Linked DNA regions of Homo sapiens: region 2 is linked to region 1. Evidence: fine-mapped expression QTL. A gene starts in region 1. The other region holds a variant in brackets. All regions are shown on one strand. Distances are between the middles of the regions.

Region 1 (2,500 bases):
TACGACGTGTTGGGAAGCAGGCAGGATAAGCCACTGGGTGACCGACTAAGGCTGCAAAATGCTGTTTGAATTTAAGTCCCTGACTTGTAGGAGTTAAGTCTCACTCCTTATACCGCGATGACGTAATCTTCCACACTACATTTATCTTGGACTTAAAGGGGAGGAAAAACAAACGAACAAAGAAAATTCCCCCCCGATAAGAGGAATTAACCAAGCAGCAGAACGACGGCTTCGGGAGGTAGTTAGGTAACTCCCCGAAAGGGAAGCTTCAGCTAAACCGGCAGGGAGCGGGCTGGAGGAGCGGATGGAAATGCTAGGAACTCGACCTCCGAAAGGAAGAGCAGCCTGGAGGCCGTGGCTCGGGGCCACCCCGCCCAGAGGACGCGGCCGGCGCGGAGGGGAGCTCGGACAGGCACCGCCGCGAGCAGCCAGCGAGCTGCCCTCCTGCCACCGCCCCGCCGCGGCCGCAACGCCACTCCCCTCCCCCGCCCCCCCACCCCCGCCGCAAAATGTCCGCGGCGGCGCCCGGCGAAGCAGGAAGTCCAGGCCGGAGCGCAGGGCACGGAACGCAGCCTGCCAGCACGGAAGACCGGCGCCCGGCCCGGCCCAAGCGCCCGCGAGTCGCTCTGAGGCCCCCGGCCGCCCTTAGGAGCCCGCCGGGCCGGGCTGGGGGGAGGGGAGCCCGGGCGCCCAGGATGGGTGTGACCCCCTTCCTTCCGCCGCTGCCGGTGACAGCCCGGTCCCGCTCGCGCCCCGAGCCCCGGCCGCGCGCCCCTCCTCAGACGGGCGCCCCCTGCCTCCCCGGCCGCGACCCCCGCCCCGGCTCCCCCACAGAACGCGGACCCGCGCCCGCCCGGAGGACGCAGCGCGAGCCGGGCACTCCCCCACAACCCGTGCTCCCGGGCCCCCCACGATCCCGCAGACGGGGTGTCCCCGAGGACTGGGAGAGGACGGAGACGGCGGGGATGGGAAGGTAGGGTGGCAGCTCCCGCGGGGAACCTCGGGCCCCGCACTCACCTCAGCTTCTCCACCGGGGCGTTGGCAGCACTGCGCGGGGTCTCCTCGGCTGCCGGACAGGGGCACGCACCTGACGTCAGCGCGCAGGAGACGCACAGTTGGGTGCCCGCGGAAGTGGGAGGAACAGGGAAGGGGAAGAGGCTGGGGCGGGTCAAGGCGGTGCCTGGACTGCCCTGGCTCCGCCCGCCTGTCGCGCACGCGCGGGCCGGCGCAGCTCGTGAGTTCGGGGCTATGCTCTGCATGTTTTCCTAATGGTTGTATTTGTAATAATACTGTGAACGATAGTATGCAAAGCGCTTCCTCTACCAGTTCTTTTTTGTTTGTTTTTTCTGAGACAGTCTTGATCTGTTGCCCAGACTGGAGTGCAGCGCGCGATCTCAGCTCACTGCAACCTCCACCCCTTGGGTTCAAGCGATCCTCCTGCCTCTGCCTCCCGAGTAGCTGGGATCACTGGCACCTGCCACCACGCCAGGCTAATGTTTGTATTTTTAGCAGACACGGGGTTTCACCATTTTGCCCAGGCTGGTCTCGAACCCGTGACCTCAAGTAAGTGATCCACCTGCCTCGACCTCCCAAAGTGCTGGGATTACGGGCGTGAACCACCGCGCCCGGCCCACTACCAGTTCTTTTGATCCTTGCAAGCTTGTGAAGCAAGGTATTGTCCCATTTTGCAGAGAAGACGGAAGCTTCTCTGAAAGGGCTGGTGACTTGCCCCAGATCACAGGGGTGGATGGTCTCTCACTCCCCGGGCCTGTATTCAGTCCGCCGTGATGTGAGAACTGAGTATCACTCTTCTTATCTCTACCTACACCCAGTGTCCCTCGCTGTAGCCACATGGGTCTTTTTTAGAGTTACAACCTTCCCCCAACCACAGGCCTTGTGTTTTTGTTGTTGTTGTTGTTGTTGTTGTTGTTGTTTTTTCTTTGAGACGTTCTTGCTCTGTCACCCAGGCAGGAGTGCAGTGGCACGATCTCAGCTCACTGCAATCTCGACGTCCCGGCGATTCTCCCACCTCAGCCTCCCAAGTAGCTGGGACCACAGGCGCATGCCACCATGCCTGGCTAATTTTTGTATTTTTTTGTAGACACAGGGTTTTGCTGGATTGCCCAGGCTGGTCTCGAACTCCTGGACACAAGCTATCAGCCTGCCTCAGCCTCCCAAACTGCTGGGATTACAAGGTGTGAGACATTACGTCTGGCCAAGGCCTTGAATTTCTTTGCTCTGCCTCCCTCCTCTTCCCCCAAATTTATATCACTGCATTCTTCAATCATCCTATCTTCGCAGTATCTATTATTTGTCTTCTCTGCTAGTATGAAAGCTTCAGGAAAATAGAGAACTTCCCTCTCTTATTCTTAGATGTTTCCCCATGTTAGAGAAAAATCGCTTAAATTGCTTATCCTAGGCCGGGCACGGTGGCTCATGCCTGTAATCGCAGCACTTTGGGAGGCCAAGGCGGGCGGATCACGAGGTCAGGAGATCGAGA
Region 2 (3,015 bases), 66 kb before region 1:
TGGTGCCACGCAACGCACAGTTCAAGCCGCACACAGATGAGGACCTGGTGTACTTGGAGCCTAGCCCCGACTTCTGTGAGCAGGACATGCGCAGCGGCGTGCTGGGCACGAGGGGCCGCACATGCAACAAGACGTCCAAGGCCATCGACGGCTGTGAGCTGCTGTGCTGTGGCCGCGGCTTCCACACGGCGCAGGTGGAGCTGGCTGAACGCTGCAGCTGCAAATTCCACTGGTGCTGCTTCGTCAAGTGCCGGCAGTGCCAGCGGCTCGTGGAGTTGCACACGTGCCGATGACCGCCTGCCTAGCCCTGCGCCGGCAACCACCTAGTGGCCCAGGGAAGGCCGATAATTTAAACAGTCTCCCACCACCTACCCCAAGAGATACTGGTTGTATTTTTTGTTCTGGTTTGGTTTTTGGGTCCTCATGTTATTTATTGCCGAAACCAGGCAGGCAACCCCAAGGGCACCAACCAGGGCCTCCCCAAAGCCTGGGCCTTTGTGGCTGCCACTGACCAAAGGGACCTTGCTCGTGCCGCTGGCTGCCCGCATGTGGCTGCCACTGACCACTCAGTTGTTATCTGTGTCCGTTTTTCTACTTGCAGACCTAAGGTGGAGTAACAAGGAGTATTACCACCACATGGCTACTGACCGTGTCATCGGGGAAGAGGGGGCCTTATGGCAGGGAAAATAGGTACCGACTTGATGGAAGTCACACCCTCTGGAAAAAAGAACTCTTAACTCTCCAGCACACATACACATGGACTCCTGGCAGCTTGAGCCTAGAAGCCATGTCTCTCAAATGCCCTGAGAAAGGGAACAAGCAGATACCAGGTCAAGGGCACCAGGTTCATTTCAGCCCTTACATGGACAGCTAGAGGTTCGATATCTGTGGGTCCTTCCAGGCAAGAAGAGGGAGATGAGAGCAAGAGACGACTGAAGTCCCACCCTAGAACCCAGCCTGCCCCAGCCTGCCCCTGGGAAGAGGAAACTTAACCACTCCCCAGACCCACCTAGGCAGGCATATAGGCTGCCATCCTGGACCAGGGATCCCGGCTGTGCCTTTGCAGTCATGCCCGAGTCACCTTTCACAGCGCTGTTCCTCCATGAAACTGAAA[C/A]ACACACACACACACACACACACACACACACACACACACACGGACACACACACACACCTGCGAGAGAGAGGGAGGAAAGGGCTGTGCCTTTGCAGTCATGCCCCTGAGTCACCTTTCACAGCACTGTTCCTCCATGAAACTGAAAAAGGAAAACACACACACACACACCTGCGAGAGGGAGGGAGGAAAGGGCTGTGCAATAAAGTCCTCTCCCATTATCTTACTCAACACAATTTATTGAGCAAATACTACGTGTTCTAGGCCCTGTACAGGCCATCTCACTTGATGGCCACAACAGTCCTGGGAAGCAGACAAACCAAGAATGCTAATGCCCATCTGACATCAGAGACGGCAGTGCTCCCCAGACCTCTCACAGCAAGCTGGATGGACAGGCAGGGCCAGAAGAGTCCTCCAGCCAAGCCTCCTCCTTGGTTCTTGTACCCAAAGGTAGAGAAACTGCAGGTCTTCTTGGGTCTGAGCCTGGGGCAGGGGTTCTGGCTGGACGAAAAGGGGCAGGGAAGCAGCAGGAGCCAGAGACCACAGGCTGAGCTGGAGCCCACATGGTTCCTAAGGGCAGAACAGGCTCTGAGGAAAGATGTGAACAGCTGGAAGGCTGACAGTGAGGTCTCAGCAGTGTGGTGCACCCCTCCCCAGCACATCCGAGTCCCTGGGGTCCCAGGTACCATAGGTACTGCAAGATTTCCCAAGAGACAGCACCAGCAACCTGGGCCTGACCCTGTACAACCGCCAAACCATCACGAGCCCCGCCCAGGCTTGTGAGAAGGACATGCATGGATCAAGACCTTGCCCTTGACCCATCTGCTTCTCAGATGGGCTCCCAATCACCAGAGGAAGTTGCTGTAAGCCCACTTTCCAGACTGCCCCCACACTGGGGCTCTAAGTTTCAGGTCGGAGATTTTATGCTCTGTGATCCCCCACTTGGGGTTCCCAGACTCCAAGCTCCTGGCTCCTGTGTTCAGTGGCTGAATTCAACGTCCGAGATTCGGAATATGGGCTCCAGCCTGCAGAAACTCTTCTCCAGGCATTGTGGTTTGTGCCTCCTAGTGTTGGCTCCCTCATGAAAAGAGGGTCAACACCCTTGGCCCCCAGCCAAGATCTCTGCTCAATGTCCATACAAGGAGGAAGCCAAAACCAAGTGAGGTGCTGGAGCCACATTCAAATGTGGTTGATAATCTTGGGGCAGGCCAGCTCTGATGTGGATGAAAGCTGATCCAACTGTCGCCACAGCTGCCCAGCTGGGTCCGCTGCTCCCCTGGCTGGCTGTTCAGCTGTCTACTAAGCCCAAAAAAAATACTATGCCTCACTAGCAGAGGCTAGACCCAGAAAGAGGGAACAATGAGGACCCCTCCCCTCCCAGAGGAAAGAGCTGAGCCACTCTCCCCATCCAGGGAACAGTAGGTCCAGGCTGGATGCTGGTATGATGGGAACTGCCCTTTTCACCTGCCAGGGAGTTCCTAAAGCTGATCTTCCTGGGGTTCTGAAGGTTGCGACCTAGGTTAATGAGACCAAATTCTAGGAACCACTGCCCAGGCCAACCACCGCCAGTGCTGCAGAGATCAAAGAAATCCACAGCCACAGGAAAAGGAGCTTCTTTGGACATGCCCAGCTCCAAACTGTCCCAGGGGGAACTGGCACAGCCCTTACATAGCCCACCCCCTCTTGGCCTCACCGTGGCCTGGAAATTGGCCAGAGGGTCCACATCCTGCCCAAACCACTCTCCTCTCGTCCCAAGGCAAAGGTGATGCCCTGAGGCCTAGGGCTGGATAAAGCCCAGCTCTGGATGCTGCTAACCCACTCTGCTGCCCCACCCCATCCTCCAATTTTTATACTAGGCTCTTTGCCATTGTGACGTCCCATGACATAGTCTGATGCACGATAAA

Alleles and levels. Positions count from the first base shown, and alleles are read on the strand shown. Sizes are in standard deviations (SD) of each study's normalised expression.
With allele C in place of A in region 2, the expression in monocytes after LPS of the gene that starts at base 1,051 in region 1 is higher (large effect, 1.3 SD a copy in Quach 2016).

What was found.
Region 2: its variant is fine-mapped to the expression of CDC42 in monocytes after LPS (Quach 2016, PIP 0.95).

Annotation. Positions count from the first base shown.
Region 1 is chr1:22,051,260-22,053,759 of GRCh38, reverse strand. CDC42 (cell division cycle 42) reads right to left here and starts at 1,051. Exons shown (of 6, transcript NM_001791.4): 1 at 1,018-1,051. RefSeq lists enhancers at 1-62, 63-630 and silencers at 343-522, 533-752, 813-962.
Region 2 is chr1:22,117,328-22,120,342 of GRCh38, reverse strand. It overlaps WNT4 (Wnt family member 4), which reads left to right. Exons shown (of 5, transcript NM_030761.5): 5 at 1-3,015. The coding sequence ends at 293. Among named protein-coding and RNA genes, the nearest start is that of WNT4, 24 kb to the left of the region's middle. RefSeq lists enhancers at 1-63, 2,226-2,275 and a silencer at 1,041-1,210. The variant C/A (reference allele first, on the strand shown) is at 1,115.